Homo sapiens: one gene and its partner. The protein of the gene in region 2 interacts with the protein of the main gene of each other region in a pairwise test. Each region holds a gene or a part of one and is shown on either strand. Other genes may lie near its edges.

What was found. The genes of interacting proteins can lie anywhere in the genome.
Region 1: the proteins of PDE4DIP (region 2) and LIN37 interact in binary tests that used the Homo sapiens proteins (3 or more experiments, as listed by UniProt).

The regions. Positions count from the first base shown.
Region 1 is NC_000019.10:35,751,454-35,755,049, reverse strand, and holds the end of LIN37 (protein lin-37 homolog), read right to left. Parts: intron 2,875-3,596; coding exon 2,799-2,874; intron 2,617-2,798; coding exon 2,566-2,616; intron 2,247-2,565; coding exon 2,217-2,246; intron 2,137-2,216; coding exon 2,051-2,136; intron 1,964-2,050; coding exon 1,797-1,963; intron 1,034-1,796; coding exon 893-1,033; intron 805-892; coding exon 731-804; intron 658-730; coding exon 576-657; 3' UTR 531-575; downstream 1-530.
Region 2 is NC_000001.11:149,004,784-149,008,435, reverse strand, and holds part of PDE4DIP (myomegalin), read right to left. Parts: intron 3,528-3,652; coding exon 2,999-3,527; intron 1,236-2,998; coding exon 1,000-1,235; intron 1-999. UniProt on the Homo sapiens protein: Functions as an anchor sequestering components of the cAMP-dependent pathway to Golgi and/or centrosomes.

The DNA.
Region 1 (3,596 bases), on a different chromosome or scaffold from region 2:
TCCTGGACTGCACAGACCTCCCACTCCAGACCATCCAGGCCTGGTTCCCAAGACCCGATCCTTCCCCTGCAACCAGACAGTCTACAACTGCCCCCTCCAGCCCATTTTCTGCCGTGAAACCCCAGCCAGCCACACCAGACTCTGGAACCCTTTTTCGACTGCCCCAACTCTTGGACACCAGGCCAACTAGAACACCCAACACCAAACTGTACAGACTCTCCCACCCCAACCTCCCCAGACTCTGCACGGATGTCCTAGGCCCCCTCCCCAACTCTAACCAGACCCCATCCCCCTAAGTCCCTTTGTCTTGACCCCCAAGTCTTCAACCAGATATCCTCGGCAACCCACCTCCCACCCTCCTCCTCTTCTCCTTCAAGACCCAACTGAGCACCCGCTCTGATTCCCCACAGCCTTTCTCCCTGCCACCACTCCCTTAGTCTTTCCCAGGCTTACTCTCCCAATAAATGTGCTAGAGCTCTGCCAACTGCTTTGTGCCTGGGCCAGGAAGGAGGGACCGGAGCAGACACCAGTGTGGAGCTGGGGGATGTTTACTGGTGTGGGGGGACCTGGGAACATCACTGTCGTTCGTACATCTCTCGTAGGATCTTCATGCTTTCTGAGTAACGAAGCTGGTTCCGATGAGAGGCCTCCTTCCACCTGGGGAGGCAGAGGGGAGACTCAGCAGTTGCAAAGGGCCCTACGAGGGGCAAGCAGGCTGGGGGACGCTCACCTCTGGCGGATGCGTTTCCAGCGCTGCATGTTGCGATAGATGAGTGTGGAGGGTGAGGGCTCGGGCTCAGAGGGCTGCATGGACAGACAGGCCAGGTTGAGTGGCCATTCCTGAGCCCTACCGCATGTGCCCCATAACCCTGGGCCAGCCTGGCATACTCACCTCATCGTCAGGGGTGCCCTGCATCTCAGGCTGCAGTGGAGATGGGATGCGGGATCTGCAGGCATCTCCGGGTGGCCCCGGGGGTGTGGGTGGCGGCAGCTTGTACACATCACGACTCTTGCTGTTGGTTACCTCTGAGCCCTGGGGACACAAGGGCCCCATGCCAGGCCCAAGAGAGTCAAAGCAGAGGGGCTGGGAATCCACATTCATCCCTCCTGCCTTTCCCAGCAACAAATGGCATGAGGGGCTCGCTAAGGGACTCAGACAGGAGGCATGTATGAAGGGCAGACACCTCAACCAGCCAGCGGGTCAAGTGTGCCTGCCCCAGGGACCCCTGTCTTCTCCTATCCAGCCCAGAGACTCCATCTACACCTGTCAGCCCAGGGAGTCGCGTCTGCCTGCCTCAGGGAATCCTGTCTAGGGGGTCACGTCTGTGCCACCTAGGAAGCTCTGTCCATTTCTGACAGTCCTATATGTCTGAAGGGTCCTATATGTCTGTCCTGGGGACCCTTGTCTACCCCGCTGGGTCAGATGGCTTATAGACTCCCATCCATTCCTGCCCAGCCCCTGCTCCTCAAGGCCTGGTGGCCACTTCTGTCTGTACTAAGGACCCTTGTCTAGCCCCTCGGCTCTTGGGAACCCCTGATCTTGGAGGTCCACATCTAACTGTCCAGGGTAACCCTGTTCCCTGTCTCCCAGGCCAGGTGGTTACGTATGTCTTCCCTAGGGACTCTGATCCACACCCCAACCTAAGAGTGCACATCTGTGTGCCTAGCCTGATCCAGGATTCACGTGAGGGACCTGTGTCTGTCTATCCCACTAGCTTAGGGGCAGGATCCTTTGAGCCTATCCACCCACTGCCCTGGCACCAGGCTGCTGGGCTGGGACCCACTACCCATCCCACCTCCTCATCCTCAGGCAGCGGGGGCAGGGGTGAGCTGGGAGAGCATTCACGCTCGCGCACAGAGGGGCTGTTGCGCATCCAGGCGCGGCAGATTGGGTACAGTGGCGTGTTCTCGCTGAACTGGGCCAAGTCCACGCTCCGGTCGAACAGCTTGATCACATATGTGTCTGGGAAGGTGGGGATGGGAGGTGTGTGAGCATCCTTGCATAGGCCCTTGGCTCCTTACCGACCCTCTAGGGCCACTGTCTACTCACTGGATCGCTGCGGCCCTCCCTCAGCCAGCCCATCATCCATCTCCCTCCTCTTCTTCCTCCGCTGGTGGGGGAAGCGGGCAGATGGCCTGCGTAGGGAGAGGGAGTGTCAGGACTGGGGTAGGAGCTGGGAGCCTCTAGTCAGCTGGCTGGGACCCTGCCACCTTACCTTTTGCCAGTGGCTGCGATGGAGCAGTCCCTGTGGGGAAAGACAGTTGACCCTCAGACAAACGCCTGTGCAAAACCCTGCAGAGGGCACCCTGGGGATACTGGTATCAAACCTGAGATGCTCACATGAACCCCACTTGCCTCTTGGGCCTTTTGTCCCACCCATACCCATGGGGGTCTAGGTGGCAACCACGGGGGGACCTAAGCTTCTCCTGCCACAGGGTCTTTGTACAGGTGGAGTGGTCCGGGCCACGATGGAGGTAGCGCTGGGCTGAGCGGTCAGGGCTTGGATAAGGAAAGAAGTTACCAACCACGAACTCTCAACTCCAAATCCAATCAGAAAAACTCACTTATTGTGGGTGTCTGAGGGTGTTTTCCCAGCTTCCTCATCCAGACGCTCCCTAGAGGCAGAAGAGATCTCTCAGCTCAGGGTTCCAGGGCCCCAGAGAAGGAAGGCACCGAGCAGCCTCCCCATTAAGCACCTTCCTCCCCAAGTCAGCCTGTGGGGTCCCACCCAATCCACCCAGGATCAGAGGGCCCAACCCACCAGGGTGCCCGGCCCTGTGACCCCACGCTGGCCTACCTGTCCATGTGACTCTTCTCCAGCAGACACTGCAAGACAGCATCCAGTTGGTTCCGGGCTTTGGCCATCTCCAGCTCTGGGGCAAGAGAGGACCCAGCAGGAGTCAGCTCCCAGGCCCCAGCTAGGTGGGCAGCTGACTGGGCCAGGGAAGGGCGTGCGTGTCCTCTGCCCTGGCCAATCTCAGAGCCAGGCCCAGGCAGCCTGAAAGGGTGCAACAGGCAGAGATGGCTGGAGTGATGCCCAGAGCTCTGAGTTCCAGAGCTGTCCCACGTGATTGCTCTGTGACAGGAGGTAAGGCCAATCACCTTACCTTATGAGCCTTTTGGGTTTTAAAAAAATGTGTTTTAATATAATATAAATTTATTACAAAAAAATTGTATAGAGATGGAGTCTTAATGATATTGACCAAGCTGGTCTTGAACTCCTAGATTCAGGTGAGCCATCTCGGCTTCCCAAAGTGCTGGGATTACAGGTGTGAGCCACTGTGCCTGTCCCAGTGGCAAGGTTTAAATATGCTATATATTACAAATAATAACCCACTGAATTATCACAATAACCCTTAGAGGTAGATGTGATTTTTTTTTTTCTTGAAAAAGGATATCACGATGTTGTCCGGTTTTGAACTCCTGGGCTCAAGCGGTCCTGCTGTCTCAGCCTCCCAAGTAGCTGGGGCTATAGGCACATGCCATAGAGCCCAGCTCAGATAGATATGATTTTTATTCCTATTTTAAAGATGATGAAACTGAGGCACAGAGATGTTAGGCCACGTGCTCAAAGGCACACAGCAAAGAAATTGCA
Region 2 (3,652 bases):
CAAATTTAGAAAGAGACGATAAGAAATTAGGCTGGTCCCACTTCCCGCATTACAAATGCAGGAGCCTATCTGGAGACAGAGTAGTGAGCATTTCATGTGTGCATCCAGAACAGTTATTCTGGGATACCTCAGCTTGTGTCTCTAGAGAAGTGACCCCACTGTCCCTGACCTGCCGGTCACCATGATGACTTCCTCTGCCCTAAATCAGGGTAAAACATTTATAATGTCTTTTGTTCCATTAATCATGAGGCCCTTGCCCAGCTGCCCTGCGGGACACTCCAGCCTCCATGTCCTGCTGCAGACTAGCTCCCCAATGCATATGCCCCACCACAGCTTTCATGCAGAACCTGCACTGGTCTCTGAGGAGATGACAAGAAGCCCTGCCCCACCTCTGCATCTGCCACCAGGTGGTGGGCTGGGTGGCTCCCAAGTCTGATCCTACTTTACTCCCTTGGATAGTCGCTGGAAATTCTGAGTAGAAGACCCCAATAATAACCAATGTAGCCCTTGAACTACTGCAGCCAGTGCCTAAACCATGTATAAAAGAGCATGGCGCTTTATCCATATGTGGAGTACCTGCATGCACATTACCATGCCATAAATGGAGACACCACAAGGATAAGGCATTTAGCGAGTTGGTGGCAGCATCCAGGCCAGAGCTTGAGTCTTGTAGTTCTTGGTTCAGGGCTCTTCCTCCTATAACAAAGCCCTTCCATCTCATGTCCCCTACTCCCTCTTAGCATCAGAGAGATGCTGCCCCTGCCCCACAGGTCACATTCCATTAGTGGTGAAGTTTCTATAGTTGTAACCATGGCATCTCCAGCCCTGTGTTTTCCTCTCCATGCTCCCCACTGAGCAGTCTTGATCCTGTATTAGCCCCAGGAAATGAAATAGAAACAGGACCTTAGGATAAAAAGTTGCAGTGGAGATGTGGTGGCCACCAGGGGCTGGAACTGTGGGGGTGACTGAGAGTATTCCAAAGCCCTGTGGCCAACTTACTGGTGCTGAGTTTGCTGGTGAGCCTCTCTGTCAGCTGGCTTCCCTGGGCGAGTTGCTCCCGGAAGCTCTGTCCCAGGTAGTAGTCAATGTCATTGCTCCTTAGGAGATCCTCAAAAGATTTTACTGTATCTTTTGCATGCCGGGTGATAAGATAACAAATACCTCTCCCTTCTCGTATTTTTTGCCGTAGGTAAGACAGTTCCCGGGCCTGATCCTGAATCAGGGAATCATATTTCCTAATGCAGGACAGAAGAGGAAAGTGTAAGTATGGAAAGAGTGGAAGCTAACTTATGGAGTTATGGGGGCTTCTGTAGAGATTTCTATGAGAACATCTCTAAGGAACTCCCCCAAGCTGAATTCTGGCACATAAGCCATAGGAGGTATTTAAGAGTAAATTCTACCCTGATAAAGTATTGCATTAAAAAACTTAGTACGGGCCGGGCGTGGTAGCTCACGCCTGTAATCCCAGCACTTTGGGAGGCCAAGGCAGGCAGATCACAAGGTCAGGAGTTTGAGACCAGCCTCGCCAATATGGTGAAACCCTGCCTCTACTAAAAATACAAAAAAAATGAGCTGAGCATAGTGGCACATGCCTGTAATCCCAGCTACTCGGGAGGCTGAGGCAGGAGAATTGCTTGAACCTAGGAGGTGGAGGTTGTAGTTAGCCAAGACGGCACCACTGCACTCCAGCCTGGATGACAGAGTGACTCCGTATCAAAAAAAAATTTAGTATGTCACTGTTCTTCAACTGTTATACATGTGTTAATTATATGTCCCTAGATAAATCATAAGGTCTGTGAGAATAAACATAGTTCTGCATTTTACATCCCTTACAGCACCAGTATCACATAGATTCACAGCAGTTACTCAATGAATAATTAGCATCATTTCATCCTAAGTCTAGATAGAACCTTTCATGCCTTCTGTTTTAACCACCACCTGATGCCTGAATTTCTTCTATGTTACGATACTGTGGCTGACTACATTTTGCAATGATGGCCATCATTTAAACGCTCATACCATCAACTGATGGGACCCAAAACAAGAGACCCTAAGTGAGAACCACCCAGCTGAGCCCAGTCAAACCATAGAACCATGAAGCATAATAAAGTGTTGTTTGAAGTCACTAAGTTTTAGAGTGGTTATTACTTAGCAATAGATAACCAGGACACACCAAGATGAATGTCTGTGTTTTCAACACTAAGTATCAATAACACTTATAACTATGGCAAATAGCATTGAGAGCTTAACATATGCTAGGCACTATTCTAAGCACTTGTATTAATTCTTTTTTTTTTTTTTCCGAGACAGACTCTTGCTCTGTCACCCAGGCTGGAGTGCAGTGGTGCCATCTCGGCTCACTGCAACCTCCACCTGCCAGGTTCAAGCGATTCTCCTGCCTCAGCCTCCCGAATAGCTGGGATTACAGGTGTGCACCACCATGCCCAGCTAATCTTTGTATTTTTAGTAGAGATGGGGTTTCACCGTGTTGGGTAGGCTGGTCTCGAACACCTGACCTCAGGTGTTCTACCTGCCTTGGCCTCCCAAAGTGCTGGGATTACAGGCATGAGCCACCACGCCTGGTCAGCAGTTGTATTAATTCATTTAAACCTAATATCCACCCTTTGAGATGGGTTCTCTTATCATCCTCATTTAATAGGTAAGGACAAAGGCTCAGAAAGGTTAAGAAGGTTGCATGGGTAGTAAGCACCAGAGGTAGGTAGTCTGATTCCAGTATTACTACTATACTATACCATCTTTACTAATATATCCCTAAGAGGAAATCCCTGAGACCCGGTATCTCCCAGATACTGGAACATCATCCTATGCCCTCCTGGTTGCCTACCTGTCTTTTCTGCAGACCTGTATCTACCATTTAAATCAGTGTCCCTGTGAATACCCAGACATGTTCTTTCTTCCAACTGCCTGAGCTACCCTACGCCAAGCATGAACTTACACATTTTCAATCAAGAAAGTACCCAAACAGTGCCATCCTTACCCAGGCCACGAGGCTGATCTCAGCTCCTCAGCCAGCTTCTCTTCTAGTCCATTTTTTGGGAGCTGGGCCTCCAGCTGGGATACTCTCTGGATGAGACTCTCCAGGTCCTTTTTGGCCTGAAGCCCTGGAGAGTAGAAAGCCCCAGTGCCATCAGACAGCCACCCCTCATCCTCATCAGGGACACTATGAGGTGAAGACCCCTCCAAGGTGCCAACAGCTCTCAGCTTCCGGGGTCTTTCCAGACTAGACGAATAATCACTTGTAACTGAGAGGGACCGGACCCGGCTCTTGAGGTTTTGAATGACCTTGTTGGCATTCTGCAGCTGGGCCTTCAGATCTTTGATGTCCTTTCGTAGGACCAAGATGTTTTCTGACTTTCCATATACCCGGAACTCTTCCTGCTTCCCTAGCTGGTTCTCCAAGGGCTTCCTCTCAGAGGAACTAGCCAGTGTTGAGCCCCGGCGTCCCTGCTCAGAGCACAGCCCCTCCATCAGGACCATTTCCTTGAGGCTGTTGTGCTCCTCACACTCTGAAAAAAGACAAAGATGTCTTCCTAAATAAAAGTTGGATGTGCTGTTGTGGCCACTGCCTTTGAGAGGAGGCAGGTTTGGTCATGAGGACAATAATTACTAGGGAAAAAGTTGAAGTAGTACT